Regions from separate parts of the Homo sapiens genome. Here region 2 is linked to region 1. The links come from fine-mapping of genetic effects on plasma protein levels. A gene starts in region 1. The other region holds a variant in brackets. All regions are shown on one strand. Distances are from middle to middle.

Evidence for each region. PIP is the chance, under the fine-mapping model, that this variant and not a neighbour inherited with it causes the effect. Protein levels are from antibody-based Olink assays in UK Biobank. Linkage for the fine-mapping came from a reference panel and not from the study's own genotypes, which makes the PIPs less certain.
Region 2: its variant is fine-mapped to the plasma level of the ROBO1 protein (UK Biobank, PIP 0.96).

The regions. Positions count from the first base shown.
Region 1 is chr3:79,763,043-79,775,092 of GRCh38, forward strand. ROBO1 (roundabout guidance receptor 1) reads right to left here and starts at 4,956. Exons shown (of 31, transcript NM_002941.4): 1 at 4,710-4,956.
Region 2 is chr3:80,313,766-80,325,815 of GRCh38, forward strand. No RefSeq gene overlaps it. Among named protein-coding and RNA genes, the nearest start is that of LINC02050, 450 kb to the right of the region's middle. RefSeq lists an enhancer at 740-1,239. The variant C/T (reference allele first, on the strand shown) is at 5,277.

The sequences.
Region 1 (12,050 bases):
ATGATACCTGTGGCTTTGAATGCTTTCCTTTAGGACAGTTTCCTTTAAAATGCTTGTGATGCATTTCTAGGTGGAGATGAAATTAGATCTTTGGAAATATAGGTATGACAATCAGGAGCAATGCATGGACAAGAAATATAAAATTTGAATGTCATTACTGAAACTCCGGAAATGTATCACAACATCTGGGTGACTATCGAGTGCGAAAAAATAATAAGGGCAAAATGCAGAAATATAATGAAGAAATAGAAATTTATAGTTGATGGATAATGTATGTAAAAGTATATAAGGTAAAGGCTCAAAAAATGTTAGCTTACTCCTCTTAATCCCTGAATAAAGACCAAATTAGACAGCAGATGTTATTGGAAATTACTTGGAATTTCAGAGGTAAGGAACAGCAATAGGGTTGGAATAATAAGAAAAATTTTATGGTGGAGAAGGAACATGAACCACCCTAGACAAATGGATAGGGTTTGGCCAAATGAAGAAGATAATTTTGCAGATTAGAGAAGACACGTGTGCAGAAATGGAAAGGCAGAAAAGAACAACTGGCTGAAACTGACGTACTGGATCCTTAGCAGGCATCCTGGCTACATATGCACAAATTTCAAAGAAAATGGAAAGCCCCTCAGTTTTCCCCAAGTGCTCTGACCCCCAGAGATGATACAGGCAGGGTGGCAGATAGGGGTGGGGTATATTTTCTGAAAAAGTTATTTACTGTTTATGAGATCCTTGGAAAGTAACTGTAAAAGTTTGCTCTTGGAGAAATGCAGATAATGCTTTGGACATGAAAAAGATATCAAGGAGATTAAAAAATTATGAGTACTAAAATAAAATTCAAGGAATAATCAAACTCCTTGTTTAAATATGGGGGAAAATAGGTAGGTCCAGTTAACTGAAGAGAATGGCTCCCTTAAAAGCAGCAGTATGACATACTAGAAAAGCATGTACTCTGTCATGAGAAAGAACTTGTTTTTAATCCTGGCTCTGCCCCTTTTTGGCTGAATAGTCATGTCTATTTTCCTTAAACTCTCTGAGCTTCATTCTCTTCATGTGTTGTAGACATCTAATAAAGCCTACTTTGAAAGGGTTATGTGGGGATTAAGTGAAATATCTATTGCAGGTACGGTGACTAACACTGTTTCTACAGTTTTATCCTATGTAGTTTTGAATTAGTCAGTTAGCCTTCTAGGACCTCAATTTCCTATAGAATTAGGAGAATTGGCACTAATATATTTTAGGTACAAATATGAATACATTAACAGTAACATTGCTCACTTCAACAGCAAGTTTAGAGAGATAAATGATTATGTGACCAGGTCATAATCTAGCCTATTGTATGCTATCATGTTTTTGTCTGTGGTCTCAGAAAGAGGAAAATCAGTTGAGTTTAGGTGGCAAGAAGGAGCTCATTCTCCAGCAGATTGGTGGAAGCTCACCTCAAGATACATTTCAAATGGTGCATTGCACCTGCTCATTCATCAAGCTGCCAGGGGCTTACTTTACTGCCTTGCTTTTTTTCATTTAAAATTCACATCTTTGTGGTGTCTAGAGTTTCTCAGCTTTGTAATGAAAGTAATACATTAAATCTTGCTTAAATAAAAGTAGTTCCTAATGTATTAAGTATAGATGAAGGCCAAAAAGTGAGATTTTATAGCTAAGCACAACACTACTTTCCAAATAGTGCACACAAGTGTATAGCTTCCTTTTCATCTCTGGTCAATGTTATTTTGTATTTGAATTGATTCTACTATGTTATAAGATAAAAGAAAATTATACAGAACAATGCAGTTCTCTTTGGGGAGATATTAGGGTATTTGTTCTTTATTTTGTGCAGTATAGGGTAAGAGAAAGTTGGCATTAAACCTTTGGGACTCCCTAGGCAGCTGTTGAGTCTCTCCCCTCCTCCCATGCTCAGCTCAGTGCTATATCACTGGAAATCACTAACCTTCATAGAGTAGAGCCCAGAAGATGGTAACACTGGTTCAAGGACAGGCTAAGGGAAGCGAAGGGAAGTAAAAGGAAGTAAATAGGAAAATACAACAAACATGTGATTAACAGCTGTTTTCTGAAGCAAGGCTCCACCAGGGATCTGCAGCTGTGTCATTGTGCTTCAATTCTGCAGCTCCTACAGGGCTAAATTGGAAGAGGCATGGAGCAGGAAGATATGTGCGAAAAGGCTAAAGGAAGTCCAAAAACCGTGGCAACAATATAAGGTGAATGCCCCCACTCCTTAGATATCCTAATTTTTATCCCTCATGGGAGAGGTATAGGTCCATAAGAAACAAAGTCATCTTACCAACTGGATATCTGCTCCGAGCTGCTGCTGCTTCCTCTTCCTTTTTTTGGGGGGTGGGGGCCGATTTTGGAAGGGCAAATATTGATGGAACATCTACCAACACTGCCTCTTCCCTTTAACAAAATCAACATGATGCATGCTTACAGATTGCCTTTGAAAGTTACCAGTGCCTCCTCAAGATATAGTAGAGAAGCAGGTTTTAAGGTGTCAGACTGAGGCTTTCAAAATAATAGCTGCTAGGAGAATACAAGTTTGGGCCTGAAAACCCAGTTATGAGGCTTCCAAATAAATCAGTGGATTTTCAACTTTTTTTTGTAATTATTATATCCTAGTTCCCAAACAACCACAGTAAAGGAGGCACATGGAAAGCGAGGAAAAAATGAAATGGCATTGTCTTCCCCCAGGTGCTCAATCAGTATATTTCCTTTGATGTGTAGCCTTCAAGTAACTGACAACCCCAAGTGGCCCATTCTATAGGGTCCTGCATCTACGCTCCTTCCTCTGTGCGCTCAGCCCGGGTTGACAAGCAACCTCCAAATTAAACAACCTCCCACCACTACTTGGAAACAGACAACCATCTCTTAACAGGCCTCTGTAACACACAGCTTGATGAAAATCACTTACACAGGGCAGATGACACAGAGGAGTTTACAAGGTCGGGGCACTCCTTGGCGGGGCGTGAAAGGGTGGGAGGTGCTGAGGTCAGGGTTAAACTACCCTGTGAAATGAGCCTCCTGCCCTGCCCTTTCCTCCCTTCATCTATAGAAGGAGCCTCCAGTGAGTTCCTGCGTCTGGAAATCTGCCCCCTTTAGTGCCGCAGACAGGCCAGGGACAGCATTTCAAAGCTCCTCTAAATCAATCCACTTAAAAGAGCCCAGAAAAGCCTGACCATTGACCATAATTGCCCTAAATTGCTTGTTTTCCTTCCCCTCTTGCAGCCTCATCAACATTTCCCTTCTTTCCCCCTTCGTGTCCTTTTTTCTTGGGGGCGCAGGTCCTCTAGATGCTTGGGGTGCACACTAAGGATATTTGAGTAGTGGGAGCTCCGACTCGAGGCAGGAGTGGGATGTCTTAGCATTCCGTCTCCCCCACCCCACCCATCTGCGTGGGACACAGTGACTCCTAGAAGGGTATCCCAGGATTTTAGCGGCCAGGTGTGAGCGCCCTCCACGCGGTCCTCCGAGACCTCAGGGCGCGTGGCAACTGGGCAGAAGCCGTCTCTGCAGCGCCGCTGCCCCGGGTGGAGCGGCAGCCCAGGCTGCAGCAGTGGGGTTGCCACGCCGAGTTTTCCGCATCGGCCGCCCGCAGGGCTCGCCTGCTTCTCCCCATTGTGTTCTCAGAGCTGTGGGACCCAGCCGCGCGCGCAGCCGCACCCGCGCCAACGCTGGAACCGAAGGCTCATGGAAGCGGGGCTGGCAAGATGGGGCAGGGAGAAGGAGCAAGAAGGGGCCCCAGAAGGGCACGGCGTTTCATCAATAATGCAGAGGCTCCTGGACCTCCCTGCAATACGTTTTCCAGCTAAACGCCACCAACTGGAGCGCTTCCTGGTTCGTCCCACTCGTGTGGTTTTTGTGTGTGAAAGATGGGACGCACCTTTTTCATTCATCTGTCTTCTCTCATTCTTCCTCCTTCCCTCCCTCATTTCCTCCCTCAAAGTCCCCGCTGGCTTAGCTTTAAGCTCTCGTCTTCACATCAGCACCATGTTTTCAAGCAAAATCCTGCAGGTTGGAAATGCAAGTGTCAAAAGTCCCCACTGCCTACATACCGCCAAGAGTTTACCAAAATCCACCTAGTAACGCTTATTTTCAAAGCCCCCACGCGCATCCATTCCTGGAGAATGCTTTCAAAGTTTGGAAGCTCCCTGCAGCCTGCCCGTGTCTATGCCTCAGTCAGCTCACATCACGAACAACGGTGCGGTCAGCGGCACTGAGATTAGGCTGCAAAGTTGCCCGGCCCCAGCCCACTACACCGCTGATGCTCGCCGCATCCCTAGAGCAAATTCCGCTGTGTGCCCCCAAGAAGCCAAAAGCGGCACGAAACCTACTCCAACAAGGGTTAGCCCAGCCACACACACAACAAACAAATTCCAAAACTTCTTTGTTAAGCAGCCGCAGCCTACCTGGAACGGACACTCTGCACAACTGGCAAGGAAGAAACAAACATCGCATCCCTGCAGGAAAACTTGTTGAATCCCTCCCGATCGCAAGGCTGCAATTTCCGATTTAGCCTGAAGGTTTTTGATTCTACCCCAAAACACCCTGGCGCATCAGCCACAATTTCTGGATAAACTGCAGAGTCCTCTCGGCAACCATTCTGCACTCCAACAACCACTAGTGTAAAACCCAGCGTGTCCCCTTTTACAAATCAAAAGCCAGCTGTCACTTCCCTTGCAACCATTTCCGAGACTTACCCTTCCATAAGACTGTTTTCAGCAATCTAGAGGCTCCGTAGTGCAGACGCAGCCCTGCAACTTTGCTGTGCACTGAGACCTTTCCGAGTTTAAACCAAGCGAAAGGTGACAGACTTTTAAACCTAAGAGTGGGGAAATAGGGAGAGAGTGAAGTCGGGTTTCTTCTCTGTATCAGCACCCTGGAAAAATTCAATCCTTCTTCAGTAGAGAATTCTTTCAAACCCGTTATCTGTATTACTATTAATGCGCAGAGCAGAAGGCATTGCATACAAATAGGTCCAAGTGTGCGCTTCTATTGGTGGCTGCGGAGGCCCCTGGGTCCTACTGCTCCGGTCTAAACTACACAGCAACACTAGGCACGCAGCTTTGGAGACGCCGAGGGGAAAATGGATTTAATTGATTCGTTACCTCTGGTATTGTAATGCCTGCTGCGATGTTTAACCGAGGGGGGAGGAAAAAAAAAAAAAAAAACCCTTACATTTAACTCCTGTCATGTGATCTATCATTCCATAGCTGCTTTTAATTGTCTGTGTGGAGTGGCTTTGATCATACAAAGGATTTTAAAAGAACATTTTCGAAGGAAAATTCACACAGACACTTTTGGCAGGAAAACCCTCTTTTGCTCTCTATTATGCATTATTCTCATATAAATCCAGGAAATTTTATATAATCAAATACTTCTGCACTTCACGTAGGTACACACAACACCCAATTGTATTTACAATTCATAGCTACTACAAATAAAATACCTTACATGGGTAGTAGATAGTAGAAGCTAAAATATGAGTCTACCAATTATAAAACACGGGTTATATTAGTCAAATGCTACAGAAAAAATTCCATCAATGACAATGGCGTCAGCATCATTTTTACTTCGCAAAATTAGAAATTCAAAAATATTTTCCTTGTAAATATTGACATAAAGATATAAATCAACATAAAGGTATTATAATGTCACAGTATGTCAAGCATTTACTATTAATTGCTACATTATCTTTTTACAGTTTCTCTCTTAGCAAGTTCATTAGTAATGCAAATTGGCATAACAAGGAGATTTAAAGTGAGGCCGACCTGTGGTGACTAGCAATTTGAAATATTGTAATAGTGTGCAAAATCACTTTAGTTCATCATCGGTAAAGCCAGTTATTTTAAGAATTAGAATATTAAATGCTGAATCTTAATATATATTAATTTGAAGTCTTAAACATGCTGTTTTCTTTGACCTTTAATTTTGTGGAGGAAAAGAGAAATCCTTATTTAAACTAAAATGACATAGACTTTCCACAAAATCCTAGATACGATATTTACTGATATTATAATTTAGGAAGTAACATAATTTTATTGTCTTTGATGTAAATAATTGTGATAAATTCCAATTTAATTACAAAATTATTACATATATGTAATGTACAACTGAATGAACATTGTTGGAAAGGGCCACTCTGGATAAGGTTAACATCAACCAACCTATAAATTCACTACCTATGTGTAAACTAAATAAATGAAAACACAATGCAAAAATACAACAGACTCGAGATCTTATTCCAAATACATGTAAAGCATTTGAATTTATGTAGTGTGTGCTACAATCCCTCTTCATTTCCGTAACTCTTTCCCTTTACAGCCCCTTCCCTTCCCCCAATCAGTAACCCTTGACAACAGAAGTGTTAACTTCAAGTCCAGGTTGCCTTTGCTGCCTTCCAGACCTAACTTACAGATTGCATCCTTGTAGGAAACAGAGTTAACTCTTACACGACTGAGAGGTGAAAGAAGAGAGTTTCTTTCAGGGATTAGAAAATCCAGTATTTTTATGTGTATTTGCAAAGTTTGCACCAAACACATATTTTTAAAAATATCCATGATCACTAATTCAGAGTGAAAAGATGTGATCATTGGCATTGTATCAGAGTCAATTTGCTGTATATATCCATTGCTATTGTGTCACTGAAATAGCTTTTGAATAACTTTTATTCAGGGTTACTTCAATCACTTTACTTCAGGTTAATAATTTCTCCATTTACAATAGAGTTAAAATGAAAATACCAAAGTGTTGCAATATTCAGTATAAGGGTATAAAGGACTTTTTTTTAATCTGTAAAAGAAAAGAAAAGCTATTATTTCATATAGTAAGAAAAGCATAATGACCATGCAAAGTTGAATAAAGATGACTGACATTCATCTTATTTCTAAAACAAGTAAATTATTGGTGTTTCAACTTCTTTCTACAAGGGGATCTGAAAAAAATCATTTGCAACCCAACTACAAGTTGAAAGTTCTGCATTTAATGTGTATCATTTTAGAACTGAGAAAAGATGTGTTTTACACAAGCTGACAGATTTTATACAAAATCAATGCAGCTTATCTATGACCATAATTAAATGGGGAAGTTTGATAGTGGACACATATAATAGTGAACAGAAGAAAATAAATAAACCAAAACTGACCTAATAACAAATTTATTATATAATCTCTTGATAAGTTTTTACTTTCTATATAAAAGACTGATGTAAAAATATAGCAAGCTAAACAGAAACTTAAGTTTAACTTACTATTTTTTTAAAAAAGTTTTCTACATCTCTTCAATAAATTACTTGTTTATCCAAATTATTACCATATGAGATGTATATATATATATATATATATATATATATATATATATATATAAAATAAATATATAGTTGTAAATGTTGCAAATATATTTTCCTTACTTCTTGGATACTAAGGCAAAACATATTTTAAAGAAGGATATTAGAACCACAATAGTTTTCATATATCCTAGATCTGTAGGAATATCCTTGATCTATTCTTTATTATTTGAAGTATTGTTGGACCCCTCATTTTGTCAGTGCAATTTTCAAGGACAATATATGCTATGTCAGAAACTGATATCCATTATGTCCTTGGATCATGATGACAATGCCTTATTGTGGTTACTGTGAACATCTATAAAAGTTGGAAAGCAAAACATACATGGCATATCCCTGTCTGTCATTACTACAATCAGCTTCCTTTCTAAATTTAGGTGGGTAAACACGCAATAGCATGCCACTTGATAAAACTTAATGAAATATAATGACATTCAGCTACTATCCAAGCTATTTAAAAAATTCTGCCTTGAGTAATTTTGAAATATGTATAGTTTAAAAAATTTCAAAGCCACAGGCATTGATCTATGTGTCTCTTTAAATAGAATATTTATCCATGCTTGATTTTGACAGATGAAAAGGAAAACTACCAGACATATAAATTATATTCTGAAAGCAGAAATATAAAGAATGTTAACAGCTAAACAGGCATCTTTAAAAGTGTAAATCAGTACTAAACAGCAATATATATATACACACATATATATGTATATATACACATATATACACACATATATGTATATATACACACATATATACACATATATGTACACACACATATACACATATATGTACACACACATATACACATATATGTACATACACACATATACACATATATGTACATACACATATATACACATATGTGTACATACACACATATACACATATGTACATACACACATATACACACATATGTACATACACACATATATACGCATATATGTACATACACACATATATACGCATATATGTATATACACACATATACGCATATATGTATATACACACTTATATACACACATATACACATATATACACATATACACATATATACACACATATACACATGTATACACATATACGCATATATACACACGCATACACATATACTCATATATACACATGCATACACATATACGCATATATACACATATATACACATATACGTATATAGTCACATGTATACACATACGTATATATACACATGTATACACATATACGTAAATATACATATATATATACACATATACATATGTACACATATGTATACATGCACATATACACACATATGTATACATGCACATATACACACGTATACATGCAACATATACACACATGTATACATGCACATATACACACATGTATACATGCACATATATACACATCTGTATATATGCACATATGCACATATATACACATCTGTATATATACGCATGTATACACATCTGTACATATACACATATATATGCACATATGTGTATATATATGTTGCAAGACACCACATCTAAATACATGGCTCAAAACTAATCTGTATGAATTGCTAAAGTAGGTGAAGAAAGTACAGCTCAAGTGTTAAAAATATCTATATAAGATGATACGTTTGAGAAGAAAGATAGAACTTCAAAAAGGTCAATTAAACTTGACATTAAGTGGAAGGGATGAGAACTTCATGGCACAGTGATTTGGTTAAGATGATCACCATAAATGGAATGCTCATATTAAAATTCCAATAAAAATTTGCAAAGAAAGAGGCTAGAAGAGGATATTTTCTACTATTAACAAGATTATAAAGCAAACAAGATTATAAAGCAAACAAGATAAAAGTTGACAATAAAAGTGTGGAAGTAAAATACTTTGGCAAAACAACACAAACACGAAATAGGGTTGGCATCTACTATAGACTTTCCAGATTAGAGAAAATGTTAATAGATAATTTTAAATTTGAACAGGAAGTTCTTAAGATTTCTACCTATTGTCCTAAGAAATCTGGGAATAAAAGCTCCACATACTTTTGTGAAAACAGACAAAAAATTTAAACCTATGTAAAATGTCAGATAAATTTTGAATTAGAGCAAATAAATGAATATAAATATACATATATACAATATTATGCCACCATTACTCCACTAATTAAGAGCTGAACAACAATTTTCTGTATGTTATATGAAAGTTAATGGTCAGATTTCATGGTTTGCCCTTCAAAAGACACAACTGTTTACACTATTTAGAAGGAAATCTAACCAAACTTTAATGTATTTAAAGGCTATTCATTTGATCTCTTTTAAAGACTCCCAAAGACTTGCTTATAAAGCATAATAAGACAGAAATAATTTTAAACTATATTTTTATTCGTATACCATAATTCTTAGGTAGCTAAATTTAATCATATTCCGTTATTTGCTTTTGTCCTGGACCAACTTCAAAAGCTAACATTAAAGTTATGAATCACTTACTCATTCAGTTAAGGGAGGAGACCACCCCTCATATTGTCTTATGCCCAATGTCTGCCTCCAAAGAAAGAAGAAGTAAAAACTACAAAGGCAGAAATGAAATTCACAGGCAGACAGCCCAGCACTGAGCCCTGGGCCTGGTAGTTAAAAATCAACCCCTGACCTAACTGCTTGTGTTATCTATAGATTTCAGACATCGTATGGAAAAGCATCATTAAAATCCCTGTCCTGTTCTGTTCCATTCTGATTACTGGTGCATGCAGCCCACAGTCACGTACCCCCTGCTTGCTCAATGGATCACGACCCTCTCACGTGGAACCCCTTAGAATTGTAAGCCCTTAAAAGGGACAGGAATTGCTCACTGGGGGAGCTAAGTTTTAGGAGACGTGAGCCTGCCGATGCTCCCAGCTGAATAAAGCCCTTTCCTTCTATAACTCAGTGTCTGAAGTGTTCTTGTCTGCGGCTTGTCCTGCTACATTTCTTGGTTCCCTGACCTGTCTTGGTTCCCTGACCTGGAAGCGAGGTGATTAGCCGAAGGTTGAGGCAGCCCCTTAGGCAGCTTAGGCCTGCCCTGTGGAGCATCCCTGCAGGGGACTCCAGCCAGCTAGAGTGATGTGGATCCTGAGAGCGCTCCCTGGTAGGCAGTTGCCCCAGTGGAATGCCTCACCAGAACAGCTTGTGGCAGGCCCCCATGGAAGATCAATGCAGTGGCTGAACACCGGGAAGGAAGTGACACTTGGAGTCCAGACATCTGAAATTTGGTAAGACTGGTCTTTAGAACTAGCCCACTCCCCCTGAGTGGAAGCATGGCCTGATCACCCATGATGTGCCTGTACAGGCAGTTTGGATTTTGTTTTTGACTTGACTTGGATTGCTTGATACTTTGGTTTTGGTTTTGACCTGGCTTGGATTTCTTGATACTCTGATTTGGGTTTTGATTCTGGTTTGATGTAAACTGTAAAAGTGTGTGTGTGCCCTTTTTACCCATTCTTTGTTTTGTGTTGTGTGTGTGGTGTAAGCGTGGCGTTTGTCTCGAGGAACCACGGGTCAGGCACAAAGTAAACCCACCTCATTAGGAACTATGTTGAAAAAATTCAAAAAGGGATTTAAGGGAGACTATGGAGTTACTATGACACCAGGAAAACTTAGAACTTTGTGTGAGATAGACTGGCCAGCATTAGAGGTGGGTTGGCCATCAGAAGGAAGCCTGGACAGGTCCCTTGTCTTGAAGGTATGGCACAGAGTAACCTGTAAGCCAGGGCACCCAGATCAGTTCCCGTATATAGATTCTTTGTCACAGCTAGTTTTGGATCCCCCACAGCGGTTAAGAGGACAGAAGGCAGCAGTACTAGTAGCAAAGGGACAGTTAGTTAGGGAAGGTTCTCGCTCCACCCGCTGAGGGAAGTCAGCACCAAAAGTCCTGTCTGACCCAACAACAAAAGAATCATGGCAGGAATTGGTCCCAGCAGTGTCCCCTCCTTATCGAGAGGAAGAGCTCCCCACTCCTGAGCCCACAGCTCCTCCATCTCCACCAGATATCCACACTCCTAGACCACCCAGAGTAGACAAAAGAGGAAGTGAAGCCACAGGAGAAACTCCTCCCTTGGCAGCTCTCTTACGGCCCAAGACTGGAATCCAAATGCCCCTGAGAGAGCAGCAATATACTGGGGTAGAGGAGGATGGACACATGGTGGAAAGGCGTTCCTTTGTGTATCAACCTTTCACCTCTGCTGACCTCCTCAGTTGGAAAACTAATACTCCATCTTACACTGAAAAGCCTCAAGCTTTAATTGACTTGCTCCAAACTATTATACAGACTGATAATCCTACTTGGGCTGATTGCCACCAGCTGCTCATGTACCTCTTTAATACAGATGAAAGGTGAAGGTTGCTTCAAGCGGCAACTAAGTGGCTAGAGGAGCACGTCCCAGCCAATTACCAAAATCCCCAAGAATATATAAGAATTCAGCTGCCGGGAACAGACCCCCCAATGGGACCCAAATGAGGGACCAGACATGGAGAGGCTAAGAAGGTACCATGAGGCATTGATATAAGGTCTAAAGAAAGGGGCTTAAAAGGCTACAAATGTAAATAAGATCTCTGAGGTCATCCAATGAAAAGAGGAGAGTCCAGCACAATTCTATGAAAGACTGTGTGAGGCTTACCATATGTACACTCCTTTTGATCCAGATAGCCCTGAAAATCAGCACATGGCATTAGTTAGTCAAAGCACGGGAGATAGC
Region 2 (12,050 bases), 550 kb after region 1:
GGGTGGAGAAAAATCTAGCAAGCAAACAGAAAACAGAAGAAAAGAAGGGGTTGCTGTTCTAATTTAAGACAAAGTGGACTTTAAACCAGCAAAGATTAAAAAAGATGGAGAAGGGCATTGCATAATGGTAAAAGATGCAATTCCACAAGGAGACCTAAATAATCTTTAATATGTATGCACCCCAAACGGGAGCACCATATTCATAAAGCAAGTTCTTAGACACTTACAAAGAGACTTAGGCAGGCACACAATAATGATTGGAGACTTCAGTGCTTCACTGGCAGTATCAGAAAGGTCACTGAGGCAGAAAACTAATAAAGGTATTTAGGACCTGAACTCAATACTTGACCAAAAGAACCTAATAGATACATACAGAATGCTCCACCCAAAACCAGAAGAATATACGTTACCTTTTATTTGCACATGGCATATACCTTAAATTGACCATATAATCAGACATAAAACAATCCTCAGCAAATTCAAAAAATCTGAAATTATACCAACCACAGTCACAGACCACAGGACAATAAAAATAAAAATGAATCTTAAGGAAATTGACAGGTGAGAGCGTGCTGGCAGTCCTCACAGCCCTGGCTTGCTCTCGGCACCTCCTCTGCCTGGGCTCCCACTTTGGCGGCACTTGAGGAGCCCCTCAGCCCACCCCTGCACTGTGGGAGCCCCTTTCTGGGCTGGCCAAGGCTGGAGCCGGCTCCCTCAGCTTGCGAGGAGGTGTGGAGGGAGAGGCGCAGGCTTCCCCTGTGGTGCTTGTGGGCCAGCGTGAGTTTCGGGTGGGCGTGGGCTCCGCAGACGCTGCACTTGGAGCAGCCGGCCGGCCCCACCGGTACTGGGCAGTGAGGGGCTTAGCACCTGGGCCAGCAGCTGCTGTGCTTGATTTTTCGCCTGGTCTTAGCTGCCTCCCCACAGGGCAGGGCTCGGGACCTGCAGCCCGCCATACCTGAGCCTCCCCCACTCCGTGGGCTCCTGTGCTGCCCAAGCCTCCCCAATGAGAGCCGCCCCCTGCTCCACAGCGCTCAGTCCCATGGACCACCCAAGGGCTGAGGAGTGCGGGCGCACAGCGCGGGACTGGCAGGCAGCTCCACCTGCAGCCCCAGTGTGGGATCCACTGGGTTAGTGAAGCCAGCTGGGCTCCTGAGTCTGGTGGGGACGTGGAGAATCTTTATGTCTAGCTCAGGGATTGTAAATACACCAATCAGCACTCTGTATCTAGCTCAAGGTTTGTAAACACACCAATCAGCACCCTGTGTCTAGCTCAGGGTTTGTGAATGCACCAATCCACACTCTGTATCTAGCTACTCTGGTGGGGCCTTGGAGAACCTTTGTGTGGACACTCTGTATCTAGCTAATCTGGTGGGGACATGGAGAACCTTTGTGTCTAGCTCAGGGACTGTAAACGCACCAATCAGCACCCTGTCAAAACAGACCACTCAGCTCTACCAATCAGCAGGATGTGGGTGGGGCCAGATAAGAGAATAAAAGCAGGCTGTGGGAGCCAGCATTGGCAACCCACTCGGGTCCCCTTCCACACTGTGGAAGCTTTGTTCTTTTGCTCTTTGCAATAAATCTTGCTACTGCTTACTTTTTGGATCCACGCTGCCTTTATGAGCTGTAACACTCACCGTGAAGGTCTGCAGCTTCATTCCTGAAGCCAGCGAGACCACGAACCAACCAGCAGGAATGAACAACTCCAGACGCGCCGCCTTAAGAGCTGTTAACACTCACCGCGAAGGTCTGCAGCTTCACTCCTGAGCCAGCAAGACCACGAACCCACCAGAAGGAAGAAACTCCGAACACATGTGAACATCAGAAGGAACAAACTCCTGACACACCGCCTTTAAGAACTGTAACACTCACCGCGAGGGTTCACAGCTTCATTCTTGAAGTCAGTGAGACCAAGAGCCCACCAATTCTGGACACAAAACCACTCATAACCATATAATTACATGGAAATTAAACAACCAGCTTCTAAATGACCTTTAGGTAAATAGTAAAATTAAGACAGAAATCAAGACTTCATTTGAAATTTATGAGAACAAAGATATAACATACCAGAATCTCTGGGACACAGCTAAAGCATTGTTAACTGGGAGGGTTATAGCATTAAATGTCCATATCAAAAAGTTAGATCTTAAATTAATAATCTAACATTACAACTAGAGGAATTATAGAAACAAGAGCAAACCAAAGCTAGCAGAAGACAAGAAATAGTCAAAATCAGATCTGAACTGAAGGAAATTGAGGTGAGGAAAACCATACAAAAGATCAACAAATCCAGGAGTTGTTTTTTTTTTTTTGAAAAAAAGTTTAAATAGACAGACCAATACTAGACTAATATAGAAAAAAGCAGAGAGGATTCAAATAAACACAATTAGAAAAGACAAAGGGGACATTTCCACTGACCCCAGATAAATACAAAAAAAAAAATTCAGAGACTATTATGAACAACCATATGCACACAAACTAGAAAATCTAGAAGAAATGTATACATTTCTGAACACATGCAAGTTCCCAAAACTGAATCAAGAAGAAATTGAATCCCTGAACAGGCCAGTAACAAGTTCCAAAATCACATCAGTTAAGAAGCCTGCCAACCAAGATAGCCCAGGACCAGGTGAATTCACTGCCGAATTCTACCAGATGTGTAAAGGAGTGTCGGTACCACTCCTAATAAATCTATTTTTAAAAATTGAGAGGAGGAACTCTTTTCTAACTTTTTCTATGAGGCCAGCATCACCTTGATACCTAAACCTAGCAGAGAGACAACAACAACAATGTACTTCATTCCAATATTCTTGATGAACACAGATGCAAACTTCCTCAACAAAACAGTAGGAAACCGAGTCCAGAAGCACCTTAAGAAGCAAATTCACCACAATCAAATTGGCTTTATCTCTGGGATGCAAGGTTGGTTCAACATATGCAAATTGATAAATATGATTCATCACATAAACAGAACTAAAAACAAAAAGCGCATAATCATCTTGGATATTGAAAGCAGAAAAGGCTTTCAATAAAATTCAACATATCTTTATGTTAAAAGCCCTCAACAAACTAGACACTGCAAGAAGATATGTCAAAATAATAACTGTCTGTGACAAACCCGCAGCCAACATCATACTGAATGAGCAAAACCAGAAAATATTCCCTTTGTAAATTGGAACAAGGCAAGGATGAGCTATCTCAACACTCCTATTCAACTAGTACTGCAAGTCCTGGACAGAGTAATCAGGCAAAAGACACAAGTAAAAGACATCTAAATAGGGCGAGAGGGAGTCAAACTATCCCTGTTTGCTGATGATATGATTGTATACCTAGAAAGCCCTATAGTCTCTGCCCCAAAGGTCCTAGATGTGAAAAAAAAAGAAAAAAACTTCCGCAAAGGTTCAGGATACAAAATCAATGTACAAAAATTAATATCAATGTAAATATATAAAATATATAATTTAAATATAAATATATAAAACATATAAAATTTCTATACACCAAAATCATACAAGCTGAGAGCCAATCAAGAATCCAATTCCATTCATAAGTCACAAAAAGAATAAAATACCTAGGAATACAGCTAACCAATGAGGTGAAAAATCTCTACAATGAGAATTACAAAATGCTACTCAAAGCAATTAGAGGTGACACAAATAAATGGAAAAACATTCCATGCTCATGGACAGGAAGAATCAATATTGTGAAAATGTTATTATTTCCCAAAGCAATTTATAGATTCAGTGCTATTCCTATCAACCTACTAATGACATTCTTCACAGAACTAGAAAAAAACTATTTTGAAATTTATATGGAGCTAAAAACGAGCCCAAAGAGCCAAGGCAATTTTAAGTTAAAAGAACAAAGCTGGAGGCATCACATTACCTGACTTCAAACTATACTAAAAGCTTACAGTAATCAAAACAGCATGGTACTGGTACAGAACAGACACATTGAACAATGGAGCAGAATAGAAAACCCAGAAAATAAGACCACACGCCTACAACCATCTGATCTTTGACAAAGTCGACAAAAACAAGCAATGGTGATGGACTTCCTATTCAATGAAAGGTGATGAGATAACTGGCTAGCTGTATGCAGAAGATTGAAACTGGGCCTCTTTCTTACACCATATACAAAAAGCAACTCAAGGTGAATTAAAGACTTAAATGTAAAACCTAAAACTATAAAAACCCTGGAACATAACCTAGGAAATAACATTCTGAACACAGAACTGGGCAATTATATCATGACGAAGATGCTGAGAGCAATTGCATCAGGAACAAATAATTGACAAATGGAACCTAATTAAACTAAAAAGCTTTTCACAGCAAAAGAAACTATCAAAAGAATAAACAGACAACCTACAGTATAGGAGAAAATATTTGCAAACTGTACATCTAACAAAAGTGCAATATGTAGCATCTATAAGTAACTTAAATTTACAAGCCAAAAACAATCCCATTGAAAAGTGGACAAAGGACATGAACAGGCATATTCAAAATAAGATACACATGCAGTCAACAAGCAGATGAGAAAATACTCAGTATCACTAATTATTTGAGAAGGGCAACTCAAAACCACAATGAGATACCATATTACACTACTCAGAATGGTTATTACTAAAAAGTCAAAAAAATAACAGATGCTGGTGAGGTTGTGGAGAAAAGGGAATGCTTATACACTACTGGTAGGAATGTAAATTAGTTTAAATCATTATTCTGGAAAGTAGTTTGGCAATTTCTGAAAGAACATAAAACAGAGTTGCTATTCAACCTCTTGTTAGCAATCTCACTATTGGGTAGTCTGGATAAAGAAAATGTGTTACATCTATACCATAGAATATTACATAGCCATAAAAATGTACCAGATCATGTACTTTGCATGAACATGAATGGAGCTAGAGTCCCTTATCCTAAGTAAACTAACACAGGAACAGAAAAACAATTACCACATATTTTCACTTATAATTGGAATCTAAACACTGAGTACCTATGGATACGAAGAACGGAAAAACAGACACCGGACCTACTTGAGGGTGGAGGTTGGGAGGAGAGTGAGGATCAAAGAACTACCTATTAAATACTATGCTCATTACCTGGGTAATGAAATAATCTGTACACCAAACCCCCAGGGAAACCATAACCTAGGGAAAGTAAACCCTACAAACTAGGAAATACCTGGGAGTTTGGTATACACATTATTTCATCACCCAGAAATAACAAACCTGCATGTGTACCTGTGAACCTAAAATAAAAGTTTTAAAAAAAGAAAAG[C/T]ATGAATCATTCGAAAGCTTTAATAATTTAAGAAGTGTACACACACACTTTTTAAAGCAGATAGTTTAACTTGGGCAAATTCCTGGTGATGCTGCCAAGTGTTGTGAGGTTCTGGCTACAGCCCTCAGACAAAGCAATTTTCTTATGTGGCTTTTTTTTGTGGTATTTATAAAACAAAGTGAACTTGTAACTGTGTGCCTGCATGGTGAGACACTAGAGGGAAAGAGAGGAAACACTTGGAACCCAACCCATTAAAACTAACTAAAGAGCTTTTCGTTTCAAAATATCTGCTCAAGGGAAAACTATAGTCTCTGACAGTTCAAAGTAAAATCCTACATCTCTCCATCCCCAACTCACAAAATATTATTACTGAATAAGAATGCCACAATGTGATCTGGCGTGTGTGTGTGTGTGTGTGTGCATGTGTGTGTGTGTGTCAGACAGAGTGTGTTATAGAAAATAATTATTTATTAAAATTTTATATTGACTTATAGCCTGTAGATACTGAGTGGGTTTCTATAGAGATCCACAAATTAGACATTTTCTCTTGTTGTAGATCGAACGCTCTATTTTTTATGTTAGAATTGGAAAACTTAGAAAATAAAAATAATTTGATAATATTCAGCCATTTCCATTTCTTCTGTTTTCAACGTAGACAAATGGGTGCTTACCCATATAATTTTATTTTTCCTATTTTTCTGAAGTCTTAGAAATTTGAAGATTTAAAAAATCCTCAAAAGTAAAATTTCCCAATTGATTTTTCTGACTTTAATTCAAACTAGAAAAAAATATGATGTCCCCAAATTAATAATTATTATAAGCTTTGAGACTCATTCAATTGGGGTTTAACTGAAAGATAAATATTATTGGAAAGATTTGGCAAAACTGAATTTGACTTAGATATTGTCTAAAGAGTTTTGTTTTTGGAAAGATTTCGTGAAACTGAATTTGACTTGGATATTGTCTAAAGAGTTTTGTTTCTGAAAATACAATGATTGCTTGATAGAATGGTTGCTTGAAAGTCTCTATTTGAACCTTTTATTAGCCATGTGATTCTATGTGTTAATTTCATTTATTATGGGAGCAATTGGCTGATTATAACCATCAACAGATGCATAGATAAAGAAAATGTGGTATATATACACAATGGAATACTATTTAGCCATACGAAGAATAAAATATGGTCATTTGAGGCAACATAGATAAGCCTGGAAGGCATTATGTTATGAGAAATAATTTAGGCACAGAAGGAGAAATATGAAAGGTGGATTAGATAGATCTGTTCATCTGAAAATATTATTCAACATAAGGTTGGCATGTGTCAGATGGCAACAATAGTCAAAATATTTTCTTTTTAAAAAATAGGTTCTAAATAATCCTCTAAATTTGTATGACTTTAATGGAACGTTTTTGTGCAGTATTGGCTTTTTATGAGCATCTGAATTTAACGCGGGAAAATTTTACATTGTTGTATAAGACATGCTTATAAATTCACATGAAAACTTAATACTACAACTTAATAAGTGGTGGGTTTTTATATACCCAATTGAGGAAATGCAGTGTATTGTAACCTATACAGCCCTATCACAATAAAATTGGGAGCCAAATGGCCTTTGTTACAATGTTGATTGCCTGAATTTATTTCTGAGATAAAATAGTTTCCATTTGACTTGATTTGTGAAAAGATGTATTTCTAAATTTGTAAAATCTTAATCACAGTGGATAATTTCTTTTTTTTTTTTTTTTTTTTTTTTTTTGAGACGGAGTCTCGCTCTGTCGCCCAGGCCGGACTGCGGACTGCAGTGGCGCAATCTCGGCTCACTGCAAGCTCCGCTTCCCGGGTTCACGCCATTCTCCTGCCTCAGCCTCCCCAGTAGCTGGGACTACAGGCGCCCGCCACTGCGCCCGGCTAATTTTTTGTATTTTTAGTAGAGACGGGGTTTCACCTTGTTAGCCAGGATGGTCTCGATCTCCTGACCTCATGATCCACCCGCCTCGGCCTCCCAAAGTGCTGGGATTACAGGCGTCGAGCCGCGCCCGGCCTGGATAATTTCTTAAGCAGTCTCTTTGACTTAGGAGCAACTCTAATGAATATGAAGGCTGTCAAATAATTTATTTAATAAGTGCTAAAATGGGCCGGGCACAGTGGCTCACAACTGTAATCCCAGCACTTTGGGAGGCTGAGGCAGGCAGATCACCTGAGGCCAGGAGTTTGAGACAAGCCTGACCAACATGGAGAAACCCCGTCTCTACTGAAAATACAAAAATTAGCCAGGCGTGGTGGTGGGCGCCTGTACTCCCAGATACTCGGGAGAGAGACAGGTCAATCACTCTGTCTCAAAAAAAAAGTGCAAAATGATTTGATACCTAAATTATTGTTAAAAGGCAGAAGGTGAGGGCAAAAAGAATGTCTCCCTTAAAAGAAAGGCTAATATTAATCTCAAGAATTATTTTGTTTTTAAAGTACATAGATATAAATTTGGACTTCTAGAGACATGAAAGTTTTTGATATTGTGGTTTTGCAGATAAAATATATTCTTAAAGTCAAAATAGAATCAATTTAATGAATGAGAGAAGAAAAAAGTATTCTGAAATAAAGAATATGTATGATTGCATTATTTATCAGGAATTGTATTCTAAAAGATATATATTTTCTCTGACCATTTTATGTTATGCCATTTTAAATTACATTTAAGATTGTGCTAATGTAAAACATAGACATGAGAAATAGAAATAAAAAGAAAATAAAGTATTACAGAGATGTGGTTTTTCACTTTAAAAAATAGCACAATTGCTTTTACTTTTGGAATACATTTCTAAAGGAATCATAAGCTTTGCACACAAATCATTTAAACCAAACACTAAAGATTTACTTTATGAAACAATACACACTAATTTGCAATGAATAGAAAATAAAATAACTGGAATTTTCTTCCACATGCATTTTTATTTTAATAGCAACAGATAGAAATATATACATATATTTCTATAATGTTCTGGAAATGTATATTAGATCACACTTTGAAACATATTTTGTTTGTGGGTTAAACTATCGGCCAATTAACTCATGTAGCATAGTATAAGAATTGAGTATAGATACCCAAAATTTAGGTGTGAGTTTGTCAAATAATAGAAATGAAATAAAAATACAACAAAGTAGCCAATAATACATAGTATATCCACATATATAGGTATATATGCTTGTGTGTGTATTCTGGCACTACAAATAGATAAATACAAAGAAAGAAGTAAATAAAGTCTTATGATTGAATGATAATGATTTTAATCAAATAAACTAAGCTTTCTGGATCAAACTTATGTAACATTTTTTTTCTAATGATCTGATGTATAATTCTTTTAATCATGAGATGTGTTCTTTGTGCCTCAATTATTTGACATTCTTATGAAGTTGACAATATTAGTGATAATTTTATTCTTAATATTTCATATATCCATCTATACACACACGTATATGGGTATGTGTGTGTAGTCTATTTATAAATTTAAGAATTTTGAGAAAACACTAGAAATGTCATAGCAAGTATTATTCTTGAAATAGAAATTAATTAAAATAGTTCTCTTAGCAAACTGTGAGTTTAAATAATGTCTAAACATAAAAACAATTACTTATTCACAAGCATGTGGAATTTTGTTTTAGATAAATAACATAATGGTTTATAAACACATTCACAAATAATCTCTTTCTTTAAAAAGGGCAACAGAGGGTAGGTAGAGATTGTTAAATATGCAGTTTTTTGACGCAAAATTTTCTACTAAAGTGTTGGAAAGCATATATTGGTTTTTAACTCAATAGTTTCAATTTGAGAATAAAGCTTTGATTATTTATCTTTTTTTTTAGTGTAATTAGAACAAAATTACATTGCATTTTCATTGAATTGCCTAATATCTCCTAAAGTAATATCATGCCGATGTATGCTATAATAAGTGAATAATATAAATTGTAATAAACTTACAAAAACCACTAATCTTCTAATCGTGTACAAAGCATACAATTTTCAAAGATATGTTGCATCAGCTGTAAATATAATGGTCAATGAACTCAAAGGTGTATACTCAGAAGTACTGTATTAAAACTGTTCTTACATAATGATATTTAAGTATTAATGATATGGCTTATATAATCCATTAAAAATTCTCTTACAAATATATTATGGCAGAGTGAGTTATCTGTATTATATAAGCATTGTTATGGGAAAAATTAAAAATACTCTATTTATCCTGGTAGTATTTTTAAAACAAAAGGTATTAGTGGTGTGACATGTGATGAACAATTTAATCTTCAATAATTTTTAAGCTTTAAATCCTAGAAAATATGATGTGCCTACAGCTGTTCTTTGAAAATAAACATTATTTTAAAGGTTTAAAACAGAAATACCTGGACTGTTGTATGTATTAGCTTTGAAGAAAGGCAATGGAAAATAAGAAAAGGAGAAAGAAACAAAACAGGGCAAAGGGAAAAGACAGATTAAAGCAATAATTATATAGACTTTGCTTGAATGTACAATTAATAAGTCAAAATTCTTATATCAATGTGTTAAATTATGTATGGATTTTATGCTATTTAAAGAAAATCAGTATCTTTGAAAAACGTAAACATGATGTTCTGAGCTCTCAGAATAAAATAGCAGCACTAAAAATATTAGATGTAAGATTTTAAAATTAAATATAGAGATCATCTTAAATTGACATTTGACTTATTTATTTAAAAAATTATAAATGTATGGTTTTGTTTCTTAAATAATATATTCATAGTGTTAATTCACCCAGAAAACAATATCAAATCTATAAATTGTTTCTAGTTAATTCAGTAATTTTTTGGTCAGAAATTTTCATGTATTCGTTATCAAATATCAAATATGTAAATTATATTATAGCTGTGCATTTTACCATGTAAAAGTCTAAGTGTGACCTAAAAGGATATGTAAAATTAAGTGTGACATATAGATTGCATTTAAAGGGGGGATGAGAATGTAATGCAGTAGATGTTTCATTAAGGAGAAAAAATAAAAGAATTCTTTTGAAGACTTTTGTGGCTCCAAGAAGCCAAATAAATCACCATTGTATCTTTACAGAACTGAATTATTTCCATATCATAGAATAAATCTAAAATGGTGGCTATAGTAATGAGTATACCCAAACAACATTAATACTTCAATTACTAATAGTAGTGTATACTGCAAACATGTCCTAATGTGTTTTCAGAAGCATTGGGGAAAGGAAATTAGACATGTAGGCTCACACAGAGCAGGATATATAAATTACTCAGAGATTGTGTTTCACCTCTGTTTGAGTCTATAAATCTATATGAAAAATTTGAAGACTGGATTTTGATATGGCATTATTGGAATTAATAACACTGAAAAATGTATAGCATACATGCACTCCTTGGCAAAAACAAAAGAAAAAAAAAAGATTTTCTCTATCCAAAAGGATGTGATATTTCTTTTCTATTTCTCTTCGTATGTTGGAGTTCTTATTTTATTAATACCATTTTAAATAATATAAAATGAGTTTGTTAATATCAAAATGCCTTTAGAAAATTTAAGTAAAACTATATTTTAAAAAGACCTATTAATTTAGATATCATACTACATAATAATTGTATTTTTTAAACTTGTGGTAGATATTATTTCCCATGATTTATAAATTAGAGCTTTAAAAAGTGACATCTTATTCATTATTGAATACATCCTGAGGCTCTCACCAGAAGCAGATGCCAGCACTATTTACTTAATTTGTGTACAGCCTGCAGAACTGTGAGCCCAATAAACCTCATTTCTGTATAAATTACCCAGCCTTGGGTATTCCTTTTTAGCAATGCAAATAGGCTAACACAGAAAACTGGTACTGAGGAGAGGGACATTGCTGTAAAGATAACTGAAAATGTAAAAGTGGCTTTGGAACTGGGTAAGAGGTTGAGATTGGAAGAGTCTGGAGGACTCAGAAGAAGACATGAACATAAGGGAAACTTGGTGACTTCTTAGAAACTTGTTAAGTCGTTTTGACCAAAATACCTATAGAAATATGGACAGCAAACTCCAAGCTGAAGAGTTCTCAAATGGAAATGAGAAAGTTGTTGAGAAATTGGAGTAAGGGTCATCCATGTTATGGCCTAGCCAAGAATGTGGCTGTCATATTGTGTCTATGCCCCGGGAATCTGTGGAAGTTTGAACTTCAGAGTAGTGATGACTTAAGGTATCTGGCAAAAGGAATTTCTAAGCCACAGTGTTCAAACGTTGGTATGAGTGCTTCTAACAAACTGTGATCAGATACAGGAGCAAATGAATGACTTAAAGTTAAACTCATATTTAAAAGGAAAGCAGAGCATAAAAGTTTAGACAGTTTGCAGCATGACTATGTGGTGAAGAAGGAAAAAACATTTACAGCGGAAGAATACAGGTGGTCTGTGAGCAACCACTTGCTAGGGAGATTTGCCTGACTAAAATGGAGCCAGGTGCTAATAGACAAGGCAACGGCAAAAAGGCCTTGTAGGCATTTCAGGGATCTTTGAGGCTGGCCTTCCCATCAGGGGCCTAGGAGGCCAAGGAGAAAATAATGGTTTCAGGGAATAGGCCTGAGGCCCCACTTTTTTATGCAGCCTTGGGACTCACCTTGTTCCAGCAGCTCCAGTTCCAGCCACAGCTCAAAAGGTCCAAGTACAGCTCCAGTTGCCACTTTGGAGAACACAATCTCCCATATGCCCTGGCAGCTTTGACATGGTGTTAAGTCTGCAGATGCATTGAATGCAAGAGT